3 separate regions of the Homo sapiens genome follow, and all the other regions are linked to region 3. The links come from fine-mapping of genetic effects on gene expression. A gene starts in region 3. Each other region holds a variant in brackets. All regions are shown on one strand. Distances are from middle to middle. Region 1 overlaps CCDC175 (coiled-coil domain containing 175). Region 2 has its middle 110 kb from the start of DAAM1. Region 3 holds the start of GPR135 (G protein-coupled receptor 135).

Region 1 (7,887 bases), 81 kb before region 3:
TAAATAAGTATCAGTATTGCTCATAATACGTTATTGAGTGACAAATACTATATTATAAAACAGTAGGCTAGTCATGGTGGCTCACGCCTGTAATTCCAGCACTTTGGGAGGCCTAGGTGAGTGGATCACCTGGGGTCAGGGGTTTGAGATCAGCCTGACCAATATGGTGAAACCCCATTTCTACAAAAATAAAAAATTAGCTGGGTGTGGTGGTGTGCACCTGTAGTCCCAGCTGCTCAGGAGGCTGAGACAGGAGAATTGCTTGAACCTGGGAGACAGAGGTTGCAGTGAGCTGAGATCGCACCACTGCACTCCAGCCTGGGGGCAGAGCAAGAGTCCCTCTAAAAAAGAGAAACAACAGTATGTATGATATGATCCCATTTAATTACTTATACACACAAATATACATACACACTAGACATAACTGAAATTCTTCTTGTCCCTTGTATTGAAGGAGAAATATCCTTAGTATCTCTTCCCAACACCTCATATATCCAAACTTAATTTCCTTTCTTTTCTTTCTTTTTTTTCTTTTTCTTTTTCTTTTTTTTTTTGAGACATAGTCTCACTCTATCACCCAGGCTGGAGTGCAGTGGCATGATCTCAGCTCACTGCAACCTCTGCCTCTGGGGTTCAAGCGATTCTCCTGCCTCAGCCTCCCAAGTGGCTGGGATTACAGGCTTGTGCCATGACACCTGGCTAATTTTTGTACTTTTAATAGAGACAGGGTTTCATTATGTTGGTCAGGCTGGTCTCCAACTCCTGACCTGAAATGATCCACCCACCAGGCTGGAATGCAGTGGCATAGTCACAAATCACTATAGCCTCAACCTCCCAGGCCTAGGTGATCCTCCTGCTGCAGCCTGCTGAATAGCTGAGACTACAGGCACTCAACACCATGCCCAGCTAATTTTTAAATTATTTGCAGAGACAGGTCGCTTTATGTTGCCTCGGCTGGTTGTGAACTCCTCAGTTCAAGCAATCCTCCTGCCTTGGTCTCCCAGAATGCTGGGGATTACAGGCGTGAGCCACCACCCCTAGCCACACATACTTAATTTTAATTGTTCAGGACTTGGGTCAGGTACTCTCTGTCTACATCCTCTATCTTTGTTTTGCCCAAGTCAACCAGGATATAAAATTCACATTTTTCACTAGTTTCTAAAACAAATTTAATTACACTAAGCATTTCATGATCTATTGCAAACTCTGTTGGAAATTTTAGTGGTCATGGGGAGAAATCCTGTTGCAGAGCACAAAGCCATCTTGTTCACCACCTTTTCTTTCTCTCACAGTTCCTCATCTATCTTCTTGCTGTAGGATACCACCCCACATCCAAATTCTTCTCCCTCTTTTACAAAGCATAATATCTGCCTCTGTACCCATGCCCTGAGGCTCATCAGGGATATCAAAGGCAGCTCCCTCCCAGAAGAATGATTTGTACCAATTAAATGCTTTCCATTTTTGCTTTTGTGAGCTATCAGCATGAGAGATGGCTTCCCCTCTGGGCTACTGTGATTCTTTTATTTGCAAGGATACCTAACAACAGACAGAAACCAGACAAGGTTGGTTTGTTGGCTGGTTGGTTGGTTTCGAATTTGTCTTTCATTTTGTGAGCAAAATATTATTTTTCCTCCCATTTGTTTCCTACTGCAGAAGCTAGTAGACAACTTTCTGACAATAACTCCACATTTTCTAGCCCACATGATTTTCTGAACAGTCTAGGACCCCTAAACTGGCATGGCTTACTTGGTCAAAGAGTTTTCCTTTAATCCATAGCCCTTAGCCAAATTCCATGGTTATAAGTGAGTGATCACTTCAAAGAATGCAAGGCTCTTGCTTATTTATTATTTTCACTAGGGTAGAAACTATGGGCTCTTAGTGACATCCAATCATAATTCTCATGAGTTATTGGAGGAACATTCAAAGATTGACATTCAACTCAAACTTTACCTTTTTTTCCCAGCATCTCCCCTCCCTCACCAGCCCTTGGCAACCACCATTCTACTCTCTACTTCTGAGTTCAGTTTTTTTTTAGATTTTGCGTATAATTGGGATCATGTAATATTTGTTTTTCTGTACCTGAATTATTTCACTTAACATGATGTCCTCCAGGTTCATCCATGTTGTCACAAATGACAAGAATTTCTTCTTTTTTAAGGCTGAATATATTCAATTGTGCATGTATACATTTTCTTTATCCATTCATCGGCTGATGAACACCTAGGTTGATTCTACATCTTAGCTACTCTGAATAGTGCTGCAATGAACATAGAAGTACAGATATCTCTTTGCCATACTGATTTCATTTCCTTGGGATATATACCCAGCAGTGGCATTGTTGGATTTAGCTTTGTTATTATAAAATATTACACATTACAGAACAATACATAAACCATAAATATACAATATTTATGTACATATTTTTGATGAATATAATTTATTAATTTTAATGAAGTCCAGTTTATCAATCTTTTTAGTTAATGTTCTCTATGTCCTATGTCATGAGACTATTCTCTTCTGTTACCATTGAGAAGCTTTGTTGTTTGACCTTTCACATTTAAGACTACGAACCATCTGGAATTTATGTGTATGTGCTTTGAGATAGTGGTCAAGATTCATATTTTTCCATAAGGTTGTCCAATTAACCAGCACCATTTACTGAAAATACAATCCTTTCCTTCACTACATTGTGGTCATACTATTGTCATAAATCAAGTATAGATCATAAATGTATATGTGGATTGTTGACTCTATTCATTTGAACTATTCATCTCTCCTCACACTAAAACAATATTGTCTTAATTAGTACCTTTAAAATGAGTTTTTATGGCCAGTGGTATAAATCCTTCACCTTTGTTCTTCAAAAGTGTTCCAGCTATTCTTGACCTTTTCAATTTTGTCACGTTCTTCCAAAAAACCTGTTTGGATTTTGATTGGGATTGTGTTAAATCTGTAAATCAGTTTGAAGAGGGTTTCACATTTTCACAGTATTGAGGCTTCCAATCCGTTAACATGGCATATGTCTTTTGTTTTAGATCTTCTTTGTTCCCTTTGCCTTAGCTGTTCAGTTGCACTATGATGTGTCCAAATTTTCTTTTCATTTTTCCTCCTTGGGATTTATTTGGCTTCTTAAATCTGAGAATTTCTATATTTCATAAGTTCTGCAAAATTTTCAGCCATTATGTCCTCACCTGTTTCTTTTGTCCTATTCTCCCTGTGTTGCCCAGGCTGGTCTCTAACTCCTGGGCTCAAGTGATCCTCCCACCTCCGCCTCTCAAAGTGCTAGGATTACAGGCACGAGCCACCACACCTGGCCTATAGTAGATTTTGATTGCTTTGTTTTACAGTATTGATTTTACTCAAATGTTGAGAAGCTCTAGATATTTGTTCATCTTTTAATTGTGCATTCTTTTTTATTTATTTATTTATTTATTTTTGAGACAGGATCTCACTCTGTCACCCAGACTAGAGTGCAGTGGTATGATCATGGCTCACTGCAGCCTCGGACCTCCCAGTCTCAAGCAATCCTCCTGCCTCAGCCTTCCAAAGGGTGAAGCTCTTTGGAATCCCAGACTAAAATAGTGGGAGGTTTATGTAGGCTCAACACCTGGATGAGCATTACATGTTGGCTTTTGTTCCACTTGCCATGCAAAAAAACCCAAAACTTGGTTTTCAAGTGGTTTCTTCTATGTTAGTAAGTGTTTTCAAGGCAGAGGAATTTTAAGTGCTAGCCTTACCGCTCTGGATTCTTCATTCTCCTAGAATTAGGCCTAGCAATCACCTATTATCCTTTATTTTTTA[T/C]TTTTATTTTTTTAGATTCAAGCACATGTGCAGGTTTATTACAAGGGTATATTGCATAATGCTGAGATTTGGGCTGCTAATGATCCCGTCACCCAAGTAGTGAACATAATACCCAATAGGTAGTTTTCCAACCCTTCCCCACTTCTTCCCTCCATCTTTTTGGAGTCCCAGTGTCTATTGTTCCCATCTTTGTGTCCATGTATACCTAATATTTAGCTCCTACTTATAAATGAGAATATGCAGTATTTCATTTTCTGCTTCTGCATTAATCCACTTAGGATAATGGCCTCTAGGTGCACCCATGTTGCTAGAAAGGATATGATTTCATTCTTTTTTATGGCTGCATAATGTTCCATGGTGTATTATTACCACATTTTCTTTATCCAATCCACTGTTCATGGGCACCTGGGTTGATTCCATGTCTTTGCTATTCTGAATAGTGCAGCAATAAACATGAGCACAGGTATCCTTTCGGTAGATTAATTTATTTTCCTTTGGGTATATACTCAGTAATGGGATTGCTGGGTTGAATAGTAATTCTATTTTTGTTTTTTGAATAATTCTTTGTTATCTTGTGAGTTCTTCAACACTTCTACAAATATTTTTTCATGTAGCTATTTTAGTTGTCCTCAGATAGAAGGTTGTTTTGAACTATTCAGCCCATTGTTTCCGCTAAACTTGACTTTCTTACCTCGTTTGAAGCAATTTAATAAGCAAAAAATTCTGATCTCATGTAGAACACTGGTGGGTACTATTTTTTGTCCTCAAATAGAAATATTTCACAAGAAGCAAGCATAATATCAACTCAAAAATGTTTTGAGGAAGAGCTTCTGAGGATGTTACATTTTCTATAGTTTATATTCTGGAAAAGGACATACTAACGTTGCTCAGCAGTCACAGTTTATTCATCCCATTTTGCATTTCAATATGGATTATTACTCTATGGTTTTGCAGCAGGGTTTACTATTTTTCTATACTTAAAAAAATTTATAGTAGAGGTCTCAAAATATACAGTTGTATGTTTGCTATAGAATTAAATCACTCGGCATTTATGGCATATTCACGGTGGGCTAAGCAATATCCCAGGTGCTCTCCGAGTTGCCACCTGATGCAGATGGCCTCAGAGGAGCAGTGAAGCCAGTCCTCTCATTCACCTCCTTTGTTTTTCTCTAGCTGGTTGAAACACTGCATGCTGCTCGTATGGAATACAAAGACCTACGAGAGAAAATGAAAACTCTTGCCAGACAATATAAGATTGTTTTAAGTGAGGAAGAAAAAGCTTTTTTGCAAAAACAAAAGATTCATGATGAGTATGTCTTTACCCACACGTGTGATTCAACATGCCATCATTATGGGGTGCTTTTCTTGCTATCAAAGTGGTGGCTCTCCACTTAAACTTATCCTAGTTTTAAAATCTATTGACAAAAATGAAAACATTTGCTATCATTACTGGTTTCTGTCTCAGCAGCTCAGGCTGCCATAACAAAATACCATAGACTGGCTGCTTAAGCAACAGAAATTGATTTTCTCACGGTTCTGGAGGCTGGAAGTCTGAGTGAGGGCCCTTTTCTAGCTTACAGCCACCCAGCCGCTTTCTCTCTGTGTCTTCACAGGGTGGAGAGAGAACATGCTGTCTGTCTGGTGTCTTTCTTTTATAAGGTCCCACCCTCATGTCCTCATCCAAACCTAATCACTTCCCCAAAGGCCCCATCTTTATAATATGCTCGAGCATTATCACGACACTAATGCCCCACAATGTTCCTTTCTGCCATTCTAAAGCACTTTAAATTTTAATTTTTTCTCATGAAAAAAGCAATGCCTGTACTTGATTTTTAAATTCAAATATAGAAATGTATAGCTTAGAGAGTAAAAATTACCCAAATCTCTCTATTTCTTCATCATGTTGGGGGTTAGCATTTCAACAGATAAATTCTGGAGATGGGGGAGGCACAATTCAGTCCACAGCAGTTTGGAAGATGAGTCACTTAGATAAAATACTTTCTGATACAGGCAGCTTCCTATCAATAGCTGGGCATTTGAACAAGACTATAAACTTCTCTGAGCCTCATTATTTTCTCCTGCAATTTGAGACAAAAAAATAACTACTTGAAACCCCATCTCTACTAAAAATACAAAAAATTAGCTGGGCATGGTGGCGGGTGCTTGTAATCCCAGCTACTCTGAAAGCTGAGGCAGGAGAATCGCTTCAACCCAGGAGGCGGAGGTTACAGTAAGCTAAGATCATACCATTGCACTCTGGCCTGGGCGACAAGAGCCAGACTCCGTCTCAAAACAAAACAAACAAAAAAAACCCTTATCAATCCACACGCTGAGAGGAGCACTTTACATCTTATTAAATTCATTCATCCGTTGAGCTAGGCATTGTAATTCTCATTTTATAGCTGGTGAAACTGAAGCTTATTCACAGGTGAAGCTAATTGTTAGCTTAAGATCACACTCTTATTAAAAGGTAGAGCCAATATGCAAAATTAATCTGACTGACTCCTTCACCTTCCATGGAAGAACATGACAGAATTGATAAGCACGTTAGGAGAGACACACCCACTCAGAGACATGGAGCACTACACAACTGTTCTTGTTGTTTTGTGGTTACTATTGTGGTGAATATTCTTTCAGTGGCTTGGGAATTTTCATAAATTTTATGAAAATCCTATGTGTATGCTGGGCACAGTGGCTCACGCCTGTAATCCAGCACTTTGGGAGGCCAACATGGACCAATCGCATAAGACCAGGCATTTGATACCAGCCTGGGCAACACAGGGAAACCCCATCTCTACAAAAGTACAAAAATCAGCTGGGAAAAAATTTGAAAAAAAGAAAATCCTTTGCATAAATTTAGATCTAGCTACCACTAGCAAAAAGACTTGCTTTCTATTTTTTAATAATTTATGTAGCAAATAGCTCATGATCTGAACTTTCAAAACTATTTTTGAAATTCTTATTTGTGTTTGCATATTTATGTCAGCCTTCAACAAATAACTCTGTTTTTCATGATAGAAATCAGAAACAGCTGACATTTATTTCTCAGAAAGAATACTTTCTGTCACAAAAGAGAGTAGACATCAAAAATATGGAAGAAGGACTCATCACACTCCAGGAACTTCAACAGTATGTTTGTTGCCTTTGAAATTTTTTATCTTTACTTTCTCTGCATTTATTTTTTAATAAATGATAGCAGTAAATCTATGTTGATTTCTAACATACTACAGAAAAGGAAGTTTAGAACTAGCTCTCTCTGTTTCACAGTCTGGAAGTCACTCTCATGGACTTTTTCATTGAAAGGATAAACAGGTTCTGAATTCTATGGGAGCTCCTGGGCCCCAGGAATGGACCAGTTGGGGTGCAGTGACAAGAATGTGCCTGAACATTATCACAACACTGAGTCCCATTGATGTTCATTTCTGCATTCTAAGTCATTTTAATTTTAATTTTTTTCTGATTAAAAAATAATACCTGTACATGATTTTAAAATTCATATATAAAATGCATAACTTAGAGAATAAAAGTTACCCTAAAATCTCCATCTCTCCACAGGCATAATCACTGTTAACAGTTTACAATATATGCTTTCAAATATATATTTATATGTATGTATCCAAAAATTGGATTATACTCTACTATAACTGAATTTGTTCCACTTAAAATTATACCTAGGAGGATGATAAAACAAATAAGGTAAAATGTTAACAGTTGGAGAATTTGGTGAAGGATATATGGGAATTCTTTGTACTATTTTTTTATGCTTACCTGTTGAGTTTAAAACTATTTCAAAACAAAGAGAATATATATATATTCTCAATATATCTCAATCTTTTCTCTAACTGCATAGTATTCTATGCAGATTATAGTATAATACACATTATACTATACTGTATTTAACCAGCACTCTATTGATGGAGATTTACTTTTGTCTGTTGCCTATATTACAAATATTTGAAGTTAACATATCTCTCTCTACCCATATGACTTTTTTTTTGTAATAAAGTCCTAAAAGTTGAAGTGCTGGATCAAAGGAGGATGCATATTTTTCACTTTTATAATGATTGTCAAAATGACCTATGTAAA
Region 2 (7,887 bases), 390 kb after region 3:
CTGAATAAGTAGAATTTTTAAAAAATGTCTGGTGGTGAAAAGAACTTAAAACAGTTGAAGTATTCGGGGTGTCTAAAGTAAATTAAAACAGGCTGGGTGCATCATAATTTAGTTAGCCAGTTCTTTATAGATAGACATTTAGTTTATTTCTAGCTCTTTTCTATTTTTTGGCATGCAAGCATCATTGTACATGTATCTCATCACATTTATTTGATTATACTCTTATGATCATTGCCTTAAAATATAGTTACTAAGAGTTTGTAAAACTTCCAAACTTTTGATACATATTGTTAAGTTGCCCTCTAAAAATATAATAAAAGTTGCCATTTCCACTAAAAGTATATGAGAATAGTTGTTTTCTTAATACTGTCACCAATATTATGTATTACCATTTATTAAAAATATTTTTTAAAACTTGTCTAATCTGAAATGTGAAAAATGGTACATTGTTTTAAGATTACTTGTGAGAACAATGATCATAATCATTATCATTTTTTGCGGGAGTATCTTACTTTCCTCTCAAAATAGTTCAATGAGTAGGTCCTATTAATTCATATATTCATTGGCTATTTCTGCCTTCTAAAAATTAATTTGTGTGTATGTCTTTTGTGTGTTTTTCTATTAGGATTTTTGTTTTTTTATTTTTATTTTTATTTTTATTTTTTTTTGAGACGGAGTCTCGCTCTGTCGCTCAGGCTGGAGTGCAGTGGCGCGATCTCGGCTCACTGCAAGCTCCGCCTCCCGGGTTCACACCATTCTCCTGCCTCAGCCTCCTGAGTAGCTGGGACTACAGGTGCCCACCACCACGCCTGGCTAATTTTTTGTATTTTTAGTAGAGACGGGGTTTCACGGTGTTAGCCAGGATGGTCTCGATCTCCTGAACTCGTGATCCGCCTGCCTTGGCCTCCCAAAGTGCTGGGATTACAGGCGTCAGCCACCGCGCCCGGACTCTATTAGTATTTTTTTTTTTTTAGTGTAGAAGTGCTCCTTAAAGATTAAGGAAATCAAGTTTCTCCTGATAATCTTTTTTTGGGATGTGTCTTTAGCGGTACTTCTGTTGATCAAAAGTAACTGATAACTCAGAAAGTATGGAGAAAGTCCTAAAATTGAACACAAATAAAAACAAATGAACCTCAATGTGTATAAAAATGTTAACATAACCACACAGAATAAAAAAAATTAATACAAGAGACTTTTGAATATATTACTTTGATGTACACTCTCAGGGAGATACATTCCAAGGACAAGAAGTACTATGAAGAAATACTAAACATTACTTAGTAGGTTTCTTGTTAGTAGAAGTATTGAAGTATTGATAGAGTAATTTTGAAGTTATTTGCTCAATTTTAGAATGTTAGAATTGAGATAGATAGATAGGTTGATTGATATTGCTGGGAAAAAGACTCTTACTGAGGCATAAAGGTGGTACAAACATGAAATGGCACAAGGAAAGGAAGAACCCTTTGGTGTTTGATTGGCACTGGAAAGTATGAACTTATAATTTTATATATATTGGATTTGTTTCTCTTAGCAACGTCTGGATTTGTAAACACGCTCCAACAAGAAGCAGGCTGCACAAGCTTTGTAGATCACAAGGAGCATTAACTCTCCCATGACCTTCAGATGTGGCCATAGGGGCTGATGGACAAAGAATTACCCCCTAGAGCTAGGAGCAATGGATACCAGGGAGTTTTCCATAGAAAGCTGAACCAGAGACTTGCTCCATAACCAGGACAGGGATCTTCACAATCTCTGACCAGAAGGATTTGCTTACCACTGTGGAAACAATGACTGTCATGTTTCTTCTCTTCTTTTTTTGGTGCCAAATCTATCACCATTGGCGGAGAAAAAGAACCTTCTCTTAGACTGTAGGTGATCTGACCCCAGGAGCCACACTTGGAGATAACTACCCATCACCAAGAGATCCTGGAATTTCAACCTGATGATATAACTGGATGGGACTTTGGGAGTATCTCCTGTGGGAAAAAGGAAAGAATTTCGTTTGGCAGGTCAAGTGTAGTTGGATATTTATGGGTGGCTAAAGGGGCAGTCTGTGGAAGAGACTTCTTGTTATTTCTTCCCAACATCCATTCCTTTCTTCTCCTATTATGAGAGATATTTTGAATTTTTGACAAATCCCAGTCTCCCTTGCATCTAGATGTGGCCATGAGACTAAGTTTTGGCCAAAGGGGTATAAATGATATTGTTGTACACAACTTTAGGCTTGTGACCTTAAAGTGAAACAGGTGTGCCCTACACTGCCCATTTTTTCGACCTTGTTTTAACTGTGGATGATGTGGATGAGGTGGTGAGCTACTATGGACCATGAGAATCAGTGGAGCATACTAGAGATGGTGCAACAATAAGAGAAGGAGCCTGGGTCCCTGAATGACCTCATGGGGTAGATGTCCTAAGCTAGTATCACACTATTTACTCCCAGACTGGTGGAGAAGAGAGAAATAATTTCTGGCGAATTCAAAACACTGTTATTTTGGAGCCCTGTTACATGCACCTTGACCTATATTCCAAATTAGATAAGTAAGATAGGTAAGATATCTTAATGCACTTTGGCATGCTATCATTCCCAAATACATGGGAATTAAATTTTTTTGGTATAAATTTACACTGAGAAACAAAAGTATCTAAAACTAAAAGTATTATTTTTTTTTTTTTGAGACGGAGTCTCGCTCTGTCGCCCAGGCTGGAGTGCAGTGGTGGGATCTCGGCTCACTGCAAGCTCCGCCTCCCGGGTTCACGCCATTCTCCTGCCTCAGCCTCCCAAGTAGCTGGGACTACAGGCGCCCGCCACTACGCCCGGCTAATTTTTTGTATTTTTTAGTAGAGACGGGGTTTCACCGTTTTAGCCGGGATGGTCTCGATCTCCTGACCTCGTGATCCGCCCGCCTCAGCCTCCCAAAGTGCTGGGATTACAGGCGTGAGCCACCGCGCCCGGCCCTAAAAGTATTATTTAAAAAGTTTAATTTATATTTGCCTTTGATTTGTTGGTATAAAATTTTTTTTTTAAATTTAAGAGTTTAATTTATAATAATGTCTTAGATGAATCAATTAGGAACTTATTTTTAAACTGAAAAATGTTACATTTTAAAAAGTTTTTCATAAAAAACATTTATACGTATTCTCTCAAACAGAAGTTTGGAAAAAATATTTGTTTTCACTCCTTTTATAAATGGAAGCTTTATATTCTCAAGTATTTTAATTGATTGCTTGGAAGGTATCTTTTCCAAACAGTTTTTAAAGCATGGAGGCCTTCAAATGCCATTTAAAAGCCCAAATGGTTTATATTAAATCTACAAATTTAGAGTTCTAAGTTTAGAGTTCTTTTAGAAAACTCAAAACCTTATTTTTTTCAAACAGCATTAACATACATGTTAAGTACGAACTGTTAAAAATGATATAGGATACATATAACTAATGAACATGGAATTTTTCATGTCTTCATTAGTTATATGTATCCTATATCATTTTTCACTTTTCAATTTTGAAATTCACATTTTCACTTTTTAATTTTGAAATCTAAATATCAACCTTTTCTGTTGCATCTTGAACAAACCGACATTGTTCCAATTGTATGTATAAAGCAGCTGTTTGGCATTTGGCTGGATCAGCTTCACATTTTTGCTTAAGAACTTCGGCAAATCTTTTAGATTCAGGTGACAGCCCTTACAACTTCTCAGCTAGATTTTTTTCTTGAGGGCTTTGTTGTTTTATCATACAGTTAAAATAAGAAATCTATTGAATTTTGATTAACCTTCTCCCTTGTATGTCAAGTTCACTCCTAAAAATGACCAACCAAAATCATGATTGGTTCACCAAATTTTATTTTGGAGGATCCATAATCTTTACAGGCACAGCAAATATGCTGAAGTATGGATAGGTACTTTCTTGAATCCTTGACCTCTCCATTCACAAAGGAATGAAAAGACACAGTCTGACAGATGATTCAAACTAGACTTGAGACTTGCTTGGCCACAGATGGAGTACAACTGGGGAGGGGGTCACCAATTCAAACATAGAAAGAAGATAATCAAAATGAGTCCTGTGTCAAGGATTCCACTGTGTATAGAACAAGCCCCTAACTGAGTAATCATATCTAGCCTCTAAGTCCACTAAAGATGGTAAATCAGAGCTGGCAGA[C/G]AGATACACGGTTCTGGAGAATTTGGAAATTTTGCATCAGTTATTCTGCAAATGTGATCCTAATTCCTAGCCAACTTCACAAAACAGAAGAAGCTATATCTCATTTCATATGGTAAGATACACTCAACATTTTGCATTTATATTTAATCTTAGCTAGCATATTGATCTTTGCTTATCAAAAACTGTGTCTATCATATCTGGTTGCAAAAACAGGGTGGCATGATTCCAGACCTGAGTTAGACAAATGACAGGTAGCCTACTGGAAGCCTACATTAAGGTTTTAAAGGGCCTCTTACCTTGGAGATTGGCATCGGGAGATACGGCAGTGAGAATCCTGTCTTGTTATCATATTTTAGATGCAATCACTTTGAGTCAATAAGAAAACATACTTGCTGATCCATTTAAACACAAATGTAAACATAAAATCAGCACATTTTTATACCCTTCCTTTTCTGTTTTACATAGCCATATCTCTTTCTAAGTCATATATAGATTTATCACCTTTTACAAAGTTAGCTAGATATTTGTGAGATCTAAAAATCAAAACAATTGAACTCATTGACACAGAGAGTAGAAGGATGGTTTCCAGAGGCTGGGAAGGGTAGTGGGAGGCTGGAGATGACTAATGGGTACAAAAATAAAATAGAATGAATAAGATCTACTATTTGATAGCACAACACAGTGACTATAGTCAACAATAAATTAATTATACATTTTAAAATAACAAAGAGTGTAATTGGATTATTTGTAACACAAAAGATAAATGCTTGAGGTGATGGATACCCCATTCTCTGTGATGTGATTATTTCTCATTGCATGCTTGTATCAAAACATTTCATGTACCCCATAAATATATATACCTACTATGTACCCACAAAAGTAAAAAATAAATTTTTAAAAAAGTTTGCTAGAGATTCCATTTACTAACCAACACCTTATTGATGAACATGTAAGTCGTTCTAATTTCTTGTTATTATTAACAATGCTCCTGGTGAGCTCCCTTCTCAAATGCTCATTTTTATATCAGGATCTGAGGGCTAGCTACAGAGAGGGCCTCCATATATAGATGCAGATGGGGCACAGCACAACTCCAGGGGTTACCCTTCATCCCAGGGTCTCTGTAAATGGTAGGCTCTGGAGTTAGGTTATGGACAACCTCCCCAGGCTGTATGTGATGGCTCTTGCTGCAGAATTCCACATGTTCCTTGGAAGATTACCCCTGCCCCAGCTCCAGGGAAAAATCTCCACTCCCACCTCTCCAGCATTCTTCACTTGACTCTTTCAAGATTCCTAATAGATTCCTAATGTCCAAGAAGGACACCACAATTAAATCGATTATTTGCCTCCCCTAAGACTAAGGTAGAATGCCTTATTAAGACCTGGTTTTGACATCATTTAAGAGCAGTATCTGGGAGGTGGGTGCTGCCTAAGTATTGGGGCAGTGTTATAAATTTGAGTGCCAGCAATGTATTTTGGAGGTGAACCCAGGAAATACTGGTAAGAGAGTGGGGAAAGGAGACTGAGAAGTAAAGGAAGACAATAAAAATGTAATTTCAAGCATGTTGATATGGTGGGCAACTGGGGCTCAATCCCACAGAAGAAACTTGGTGGGACAGTGTAGGACAGGTTTCAGAGTCATTCCCTCTGAGAGGTGAGGAGCCTAGAGAAGTTATTCATCAACTCCCCGTATCGATTTATGGCTGCTTTCAGGGGCATTAACTCTCTGACACTTCTGCCCTGCCCTTCTTTGTGCCTGGGCCTGTCCCCAAAGCCAGATAAAAGCTCTCAGACAGAGAGGTAGTTTTTTGGGCAAGTACCAACAGCATCTGCTTCAATGGTCATCCATGCCTAGAGTTTAAAAATGTGTTGGCTGGTAAATTGTCTGTTTTTAAGAAAATTTAAGATGGGTTTATATCACTTTTAACCAAATAAATTCTGACTAACATATATAGCAGACATATATTACCTACCTATATATAATATAAATAGTGATATATGATCACTATATATCACTATAAAATTATTGTGGGAAATAACAAGATAAATAAGATGCAAGACCTATGTTAAAAATAATGATTAATATGATTAATACTGGTTACTACTTATTAATAGTTCTTGTTTGAATTTAGTGGCCACCTACTATATAACAGACCCTATACTAATAATTTACATGGTCCCAAAAACCAGTTACATTTATTAAGTCCCTAATTTGAGCCAAGATTTCTAACTGTATTGTTTTGTTTAATCTTCACAACCTATGAGTTAGTTATTATTATCCTTTTTGTTCTCTCTGCAAAGGAAACCAAAGCTTATAGAGGTTAAAAACTTGCAAGATCACAAGTGGCAGGGCTGTGATTCAAACCATCACCACTACAGATGACAACTGAAGCAGGGAAAAATTAAGTGGTTTGCTTAAGATCACACAACCCTCCCTTCACCCCTTCCCTCCCCTCCCTTTACCCCTCCTCTCCCCTTCCCTTCCTTTTCTTTTCTTTTTTTCCTTTTTTGAGATGGAGTCTTGCTCTAGCACCCAGGCTGGAGTGCAATGGCGTGATCTCGGCCCACTGCAACCTCCGCCTCCTGGGTTCAAGCGATTCTCCTGCCTCAGCCTCCTGAGTAGCTGGGATTACAGGTGTGCGCCACCATGCCCAGCTAATTTTTTTATTTTTAGTAGAGACAGTATTTGCCATCTTGGCCAGGCTGGTCTTGAACTCCTGACCTCAGGTGATCTGCCTGCCTTGGCCTCCCAAAGTGCTGGGATTACAGGGGTGAGCCACCATGCCCCGCCAAATATGTTTATGTCTAATCCCAGGAACCTGTGGATTTGTCGTGTCACTTGGGAAGGGACAAAGTAAGATCAGCTGACTTGAGATGGGGAGGTTACTCTGTATTAGCAGGGTGGATGCAGTGTATGCACAAAGCTCCTTATAAGTGAAAGGGAGAGGCAGAGGAGTCAGCTTTTTTGAAGATTTGAAGATGATACCCTACCAACTTTGCCAACTCAGTAGATAGAGGAAGAGGCATGGGCCAAGGAATACAGATGGCTTCTATAAACTACAAAAGGCAAGGAAACATTTTTCCCCAGAGGCTCCTGAAAGAACATACTTTCCGACACCTTGACTTTGGATCACTGAGAGCATTTTGAATTTATGACTTCCAGAAATGTAATTATAAATTTGTGTTGTTTCAAGACACTAAGGTTGTGAGAATTTATTATAGCACTAATAAGAAACTAATATATTGAAACTATTAAAAGAGGTCTGTCTGTAGAATTAGCCGCTCTCAAGGTTCCAGAAAGAACAGTGAGGTTGACATGAGATCATTTAAAAGGGTTCTACAACACCGCTCAGATGCTGATGGGCTACTGCCTAAATGTACCATGGAGGGGAAGGAAGATACAGGAACATTTCGTTAGAGGTAGGACTGCTTTAAGATGTCCTTCTATCTGGGTGAAAGCCTACCTCAATAAGCTCTGGTCTATTCTTGGGTGAGGACTTTTCTGGGGCTGTTTTCACTCCTAATAATATAAAGAAATGCTTCTTGACAAATCACTGAATACATTTTATGTTTTCATATGCTTTTGGTGAATCTTAGAATTTTTTTATTACTTTCCTTAGCCATAGAGTACAATAAAAATGAAAATGAATCTCATATGTTCTATTAATACTTAACTTAGGTCCCTTTGCTTTTGGAAACTAATATTATTCTTTAAGCATAGGCTAGTAAATAATA
Region 3 (7,887 bases):
ACAATCTTTGTCCTCTTTGTTGATGCTCCTGAGGTGGATAGCTGTGGATTTCTCCAGCCATCATGCCTTTCCCCTTCTTTTACCCCCCAACCTTTTTTTTTTTTTTTTTTTTTTTTTTTTTAATGAGATGGAGTCTCACTCTGTCGCCAGGGCGAGAGTGCAGTTGGCATGATCTTGGCTCACTGCAACCTCTGCTTCCCGGGTTCAAGCGATTCTCCTGCCTCAGCCTCCTGAGTAGCTGGGATTACAGGTGCCTGCCACTACGTTCAGCTAATTTTTTTGTATTTTTAGTAGAGACGGGATTTCACCCTGTTGGCCAGGCTGGCCTTGAACTCCTGATCTCGTGATTCACCCACCTTGGCCTCCCAAAGTGCTGGGATTACAGGCATGAGCCACCGCGCCTGGCCTCCCCTTCTTTTATCAACAGCATTCTCCTTTTTCTTTGGGAAACTACCTGCATGTAGTCTTGCTAGGACTGCTGGGAAACTGGTACACCAGTCAAGACTTTTTCCCCCAGACCTGAGATCTTGAGAAATGACATAAGGTCTGAAAACTGAAGTTGATCTGTTCCAATGGTGGCCTAAAGAGATCACTCCCATCAGTTTCTGCTCTCCCTACCCACAGGACTGCTCTGACTTCTCTTCTTCTTGGAGCTGCTGTTAGACTGTCCTTTTGTAAATGGAACTTCCCCTGTCCTTCCAGTAAATTCCTATATTGCTTATGTGAACCAGTGTCCTCATGTGTTACTTACGCCCAGAGAATCCTAATCCATATACTACCTACCCTAATCTATACATGACCTCTCCTTCTTCACTGCAAAGGTCCACTTCAGACTCTCACTTTTCACCTGGACTGTTAGAATGCCTCTCCTTAAGTGGTCTCCTAAATTCCAGATTCTCCTCTTACAGTTACTCAAAAAATATTTTTTTGTATGTTGGCATTTGTATAGCAGTTTGTTAGAGTGCTAAGTGCTGGGGATCTCATAAAATAAACAGGCAAGGTTTAGGTCCTCATATAGTATAGAGTGGGAGGCAGGTAATGCTTAGATAATCACGCAAAAAATTATAGACCATGGTTATGTGCTACAATGGAAAATACAGAGTGCTGTGAAACTAACAGGGGAACATGGCCCAATACGTGGGGAAAGGACGGTATCAGTCAAGGGAGGCTTCCCCCATGGACTAACCTTAACGCGAAGATGGGGATGCTAGGGAAGGGAAGAAGAAGATGGAGCTTTCCAGGCAGAGGGGATAGCAAGTGCAAACACCCTAAGATGGAAGGTTTAAGGAAGTCATAAAAGCCAAGTGTGGCAGGAACACAGAAAAAAGAAGGAAAGTGGTACCGAATGAGACTAGAGAGGAAGCAGGGTCAAATCATGCAGTGCCTTGTAGGAAATATTAAGGATTGGGGTCCTTATTCTAAAATAAATGGGGAAAGCCAATAGGATTTTTTTTAAAAGAGACATGGTCTCACTATGTTGCCCAGGCTGGCCTGTAACTACTGGGCTCATACGATCCTCCCTCCTCAGCTTCCTAAGTACCTGGGACTACAGGCACATGCCACTACACTGGCCTAATTAGAAGAGTTTAAATAAGTAAGTGGCATGAAGAATTTTTTTAAGAGCATTATGCCTAGCTGCCTACAATGTAGGAACTGGATGTGGGAAGACCGGTTAGGACAACAGTGACAACAGTAGTCCAAAGAGAGGATGAGAGCCAAGATTCAGGATGGAGGAGATGAATGGATGCAAAGATAGTCCGCAACTAAAATCCATAGGTCTTGGTTGATGAATTGGATGTGGACTGGTGGTAAGGAGGAGGGATTCATCAAGGAAAACTCTTAAGTTTTTGGCTTAAAAGCTAGAAGGATGGTTCTACCATATTCTGAGATACAGAGTATTGAAGACCAAGTTTTACCGGGGAAGTAGGAAGAAGATCATGCACCCATTTGATGTGCCACTGGCACATCAAGGAGAGAGATGCCAAGTAGCAGGACATGTAGGTTGGGGCCACAGACATAATTTGAGTAATGAATATATAGATTATCTTTGAAGTCCTGGATGTGAGTGAGATGGGGCCGAGGGGGGAGTCCAGAGGAGCTGAGAACAGGGCTTTGATGAACTCCAGCATGTAAAGGCAGGTGGAAGAGGATGAACTGGCAGAGGAGAGGACACTGAGAAAGATGAGGAAGGAAGGAAGCAGAAGAGTGCAGTCCTTCTGGTCCTTCTGAACCATGCACTTGCTCACGGCCCTCCCTTATGCTATTAGCCCCTCCTCCCCTGATGAAGTTCAGTCTCCAGAGCATGGCCTACAAGGCCCATCATAAGGTAGCCCCAATAAACTTTGATCATTTATTTCCTTCTTCACTCCCCATCTCCAATATCCTAGAATTCAGACACTGCTCACTTCAACACTAACCTCCAGACTTTGCACATTCATCAAATGTTCTTTCCCTTTCTTCTTTTTTTAAAAAGTCTAATGTCACCTCTTGTACAAAGTCTTTGTCAGGAAGACAAATAATTTCACTCACATATTTTTAAGACAATATTTAGCACACTGTAATATACTGTGTTGGCCGGTGGCTTAAGCTTATTTGGGCTGGGTTTCCTATCTTATATGTTGTTTCCTAAAACTAAGCACAATCTGAGAAGATTGTGTTTGCCAAATAAATTAATGTATGATAATTATATTTTTGCTTTGATTGACAAAATTAAGACAAAATCAGTCTAGATTAAGCTGGCATTGACTGCTCCCAAGAGGATATTTGGCAATATCTGAAGACAGTTTTAGTTGTCACAGCTGGGAGAGGTGCTACTGGCATCTCGTAGGTAGGAACTAGGGATGCTGCTGAACATCATACAATGTATAGATGGCCCCTGCAATAAAGAATTATCTGGCCCAAAAGTCCATGACGCTTAGGCTGACAAACCCAGTTTTGGTTTGCCACCTTAAACGTTCTTCTATTTATACTGTAAATTTCCTGTAGGATATTTTTTCTGAATGAAATAAGCACTCCAATACTAATACCATTGATTCTAAGATCTACAAATATACTAGTCATTCTTTAGAGCAGTGTTTCTCAAATTTGTGCATCAGAATCACTGGGAGGGCTTGTTAAAACATAGGTGCCTGGGCCCCACCACAGGAGTTTCAGTAGATCAGGGGTATCCTATGCACTGTAGGCCTGATAATTTGTATTTCTCAAGGTTTCCAGGGGATGTTGATGCTGCTGGTCCAATGTCCATACTCTGTGAACCACTGCTTTAGCGAAGAGCCCAGGGTTAGTTAACCTGAGGGTTTATCACACTTTTCCCCATTAGAGGCCATGCCCAGAAACTTGAGATGCAACTTCCCTGGGTAGCCCTGCCTTTCTTTTCCCCGTATCTCCCAGCCAGGTACCTGGAGCTGCATCTGTGGTGATTGCCAGGCTGGCAGCACCTTAGACTCAAAACATACCCCATTCCTGAGAACAGATGAAGGCTGCTAGCAGGGCAAGGCACCAATCCCTCTCCCCCCATTTATCAGCCAGTAGGGGCCTGAGGTCCAGGCCCTTGGAAATGAAGTAACATCTAAAGGAACTATCCTAGCTCCTCAGAGCACCTGTATCAGAATCACCTACGGGGTTTAGAGTCATGGGCCCATCCTTAGTAATTCTGTCAGCCTGGGAATCTGCATTTTATGAAACTCTTGACATCAGTGCTTCTGTAAGTGTGGTCCTGGGACCAGCATCATCATCACCACCCGCGAACCCGTTAGAGATACAAATTCTTGGGTACTTCCCCAGACATATTCGAAACGCTGGGGTTCAGACCTCGTCACTTGTATTTTAACACGCCCTCTATGTGAATTCTGTTAGCTCAAGTTTGAGAATTACTGGTTTAAATTAGTCTGCTTCTCAAGTTTAAGATGTCTGGATGTAGACTTCTGGATTTTTCTTTCACTTCACTTTCTAGATTCCTTTCCTACCTGTATATACCAAAAGCACCCACAGGAAGCAGAGTGCCCCCCCCACCACTCCCCAAAAGGCCTGCCTGTAGAACATTTGTACCCTACAAAAGAGAGCAAGAGTGAACTTTCGTTGAATCTGGTCATTTGTTTGCATGCCAGTCGGCACTTTATCTGGCCGGACATTGGTCCCTCAGGAGGTCGACCTGGCACTCTCGGAAACCCGAACACCCGGGCCGGTAACCTCCGGAGTGGCGGTGTCGCGGGTCGGCTTTGCAGCGGGTACTGGGCTGCCGTCCCGCCCCGCGCTCCTGCGTAAACACGCGGTTCCCTCGGCAACGCTGGAACCCACGTCAAAGGCTCCGCCAGGTCCCCAGCGACCGCCACCCCTCCGGCCGAGCCCAGCTCCCCGCGGCGGCCGCTAGCCCCCGGCCCCGAGCCACCACTCCGACCTAGCGGCCGCCGCCCCCGGTGCGGGATGAGGAGATCCGCGGCCGCCACTGGGCCCCATGGAGGAGCCGCAGCCGCCCCGCCCACCAGCGAGCATGGCCTTACTGGGCAGCCAGCACTCCGGCGCCCCCTCCGCGGCCGGCCCACCTGGCGGGACTTCCTCCGCGGCCACGGCGGCCGTGCTCTCCTTCAGCACCGTGGCGACCGCGGCGCTGGGGAACCTGAGCGACGCAAGCGGAGGCGGCACAGCTGCCGCTCCCGGTGGCGGCGGCCTTGGCGGGTCCGGGGCAGCGCGGGAGGCGGGGGCGGCGGTGAGGCGGCCGCTAGGCCCGGAGGCGGCGCCGCTGCTGTCGCACGGAGCTGCAGTGGCGGCCCAGGCGCTCGTCCTCCTGCTCATCTTCCTGCTGTCTAGCCTTGGCAACTGCGCGGTGATGGGGGTGATTGTGAAGCACCGGCAGCTCCGCACCGTCACCAACGCCTTCATCCTGTCGCTGTCCCTATCGGATCTGCTCACGGCGCTGCTCTGCCTGCCCGCCGCCTTCCTGGACCTCTTCACTCCGCCCGGGGGTTCGGCGCCTGCCGCCGCCGCGGGGCCCTGGCGCGGCTTCTGCGCCGCCAGCCGCTTCTTCAGCTCGTGCTTCGGCATCGTGTCCACGCTCAGCGTGGCGCTCATCTCGTTGGACCGTTACTGCGCTATCGTGCGGCCGCCGCGGGAGAAGATCGGCCGCCGCCGCGCGCTGCAGCTGCTGGCGGGCGCCTGGCTGACGGCCCTGGGCTTCTCCTTGCCCTGGGAGCTGCTCGGGGCGCCCCGGGAACTCGCGGCGGCGCAGAGCTTCCACGGCTGCCTCTACCGGACCTCCCCGGACCCCGCGCAGCTGGGCGCGGCCTTCAGCGTGGGGCTGGTGGTGGCCTGCTACCTGCTGCCCTTCCTGCTCATGTGCTTCTGCCACTACCACATCTGCAAGACGGTGCGCCTGTCGGACGTGCGCGTGCGGCCGGTGAACACCTACGCGCGCGTGCTGCGCTTCTTCAGCGAGGTGCGCACGGCCACCACCGTCCTCATCATGATCGTCTTCGTCATCTGCTGCTGGGGGCCCTACTGCTTCCTGGTGCTGCTGGCCGCCGCCCGGCAGGCCCAGACCATGCAGGCCCCCTCGCTCCTCAGCGTGGTGGCCGTCTGGCTGACCTGGGCCAATGGGGCCATCAACCCTGTCATCTACGCCATCCGCAATCCCAACATTTCGATGCTCCTAGGGCGCAACCGCGAGGAGGGCTACCGGACTAGGAATGTGGACGCTTTCCTGCCCAGCCAGGGCCCGGGTCTGCAAGCCAGAAGCCGCAGTCGCCTTCGAAACCGCTATGCCAACCGGCTGGGGGCCTGCAACAGGATGTCCTCTTCCAACCCGGCCAGCGGAGTGGCAGGGGACGTGGCCATGTGGGCCCGCAAAAATCCAGTTGTACTTTTCTGCCGAGAGGGACCACCAGAGCCGGTGACGGCAGTGACCAAACAGCCTAAATCCGAAGCTGGGGATACCAGCCTCTAAGACGGTTGGAATGGCCAGCTTATGAAGGCAAATTTCCACTCGCATTATTTAATGATGGAAGATTCTGGGGGAGAGTTGTGGATTTCATAAAGCCAAACATTTAAAGCTAGAGACGGGGGAGGCTTACCACTTTCCCCAAACAACATAAAAGACAATGTCCCTTCTTCAAAAGTGCCAAAAGGAATGTAAAATGCAAAAATTAAAACAATCTTAAACCACATAACCAAGCATTGTGAACTGTAAGTGCCAAAAATGACAAAAATAACATTCACTATAACTGAAAAGCTCATATTATAGGACCACACTGTGAAACAAACAAAACATTGAATGCAACCAGTATTGTTCAACTACACAGAATTTCAGGAATGAATGGAGACCTTCAGAGCTGCTTGAAAGCCCCTCTAAATCGCTACCATCCAACAAAACTTTAGCTTCTAGAGCTTGCACCTCTGACATGCTTTGGGTGCTTAGATTGCAAGTGGAAAAGTCTTATCCTTACACACATTGGTGCACCTCCTCACCCCACCCCCTAATAACCTTTGTGGAAAATTTTTAATTCATAACCCATTTAAAATCATTTTAGGATTTTGAAAAGCTGGTTATTATTAGATAAAATTCAACCATCTGAAGGACAAATAGAAGTATGAACATAAAGAAATGTGTCTTTTAAATGTTTTCCAAGATTATATGTAAAAATTAACATTCCTTCCACCCGCGTCATACCTCCAAAATGATCTTCCTTGGAAAACTTTGAAGTTTTATCCTTACTCTAACCTGTTACTTTTATTTCTGATAAATTTTGGAATGCTGCTCTCAGAATGCTTTCACATTTAAAAAAATATTTTCATTGTAGAAAATTTTTGTCTTTTGAGGTAAATTTGATTTTTGGATATAGCCAAAAATGTAATTTGAAGTCAAGTTGATTGAATAAGGTGAGTGATGCCACTTTATTTAAATTTTTATTATTTTTTAAAATGAGACCTCTATAAAACAACAAGGTTGGGTTTCCTACGTGGCTTTTAGCTAACTGAAAACGATTCCAAAGAGAAATTCTAAAACTATTTTGAGAAGCAGCCTCTTGGAATTAGCGTAGACTTTTCCAAATAGATCATACCCTCCTACATTTAGAAATTTGGTATATTTTGTATTTTTTAAAATAGCTGATGGTTGCTTTATAGCTATGACTTGTCGAAGATAATGTATTTATTAAAGGGAGAATAGGTGTGGGACTATATGTAACGGTATTAAAACACAGGCATAAAGTTGGAGAAGAACTTCAAGCAAACTGAAAATATCTTTAGAAATATGCAAATCAAAGATGCTTTTTAAATTTCTATCTTAGCAGAAAAGATGGTTTTACAATAATTCAAAAGCGTATGTGAACTTTCTAATGTTAAATACGACTATACACAGAATCATTTACTCAGAATTTTTTTAAATATTATTTTTCCCTTTCTTTTCCTCCATCCTGCCCCTTTTCTTCAGTATTTCATAGCCTTAATTGAACAAGTTATTTACAGTAGATATGAAAAGACATTAGCTGTCGTATGAAGATTTCAATGTGAAATAGCCAGCATTTTCTTCCTGTAAAGTATTTAAATATGTTTTTAAGTATTTCTTTGTTTGACAGGTGGGTACATGTCATTATTTTGTAATCAAAGGTGGAAATATATGAGTCATGTCAGAGCTAAAGATGTTTTAATTTTTTCTGCTTCTCAGGGTATCATCACAAATCAGAAGTTTGTAAATTGTATATATTTTGCTACACTCAATGTAGTACAAAGTAGATGAGATAATCCCTCCCCTCTAGCCCTTATTTTATAAAGCATATACAGACTTCATGCAGCTGGACTAACAAAAACAGGTGTCTGCGGTATTTGCCTGTTAAAGGCAAAAAATTGTGTATTTTTTGGCACCGAGTCACTTTTGGGATTTAGAGAGAAATGATA

What was found. PIP is the estimated chance that this variant, and not a neighbour inherited with it, causes the effect. A credible set is the group of variants that fine-mapping cannot tell apart.
Region 1: its variant is the best candidate, but not a certain one, in a credible set for the expression of GPR135 in whole blood (TOPMed, PIP 0.77).
Region 2: its variant is the best candidate, but not a certain one, in a credible set for the expression of GPR135 in whole blood (TOPMed, PIP 0.60).

Annotation. Positions count from the first base shown.
Region 1 is chr14:59,542,387-59,550,273 of GRCh38, reverse strand. CCDC175 (coiled-coil domain containing 175) reads left to right here. Exons shown (of 20, transcript NM_001164399.2): 9 at 4,975-5,111; 10 at 6,820-6,930. Among named protein-coding and RNA genes, the nearest start is that of CCDC175, 30 kb to the left of the region's middle. The variant T/C (reference allele first, on the strand shown) is at 3,802.
Region 2 is chr14:59,073,664-59,081,550 of GRCh38, reverse strand. No RefSeq gene overlaps it. Among named protein-coding and RNA genes, the nearest start is that of DAAM1, 110 kb to the left of the region's middle. The variant C/G (reference allele first, on the strand shown) is at 4,156.
Region 3 is chr14:59,461,793-59,469,679 of GRCh38, reverse strand. GPR135 (G protein-coupled receptor 135) reads left to right here and starts at 4,300. Exons shown (of 1, transcript NM_022571.6): 1 at 4,300-7,887. The coding sequence starts at 4,454. The coding sequence ends at 5,938. It also overlaps a transcript of L3HYPDH not described here. RefSeq lists a silencer at 4,230-4,769.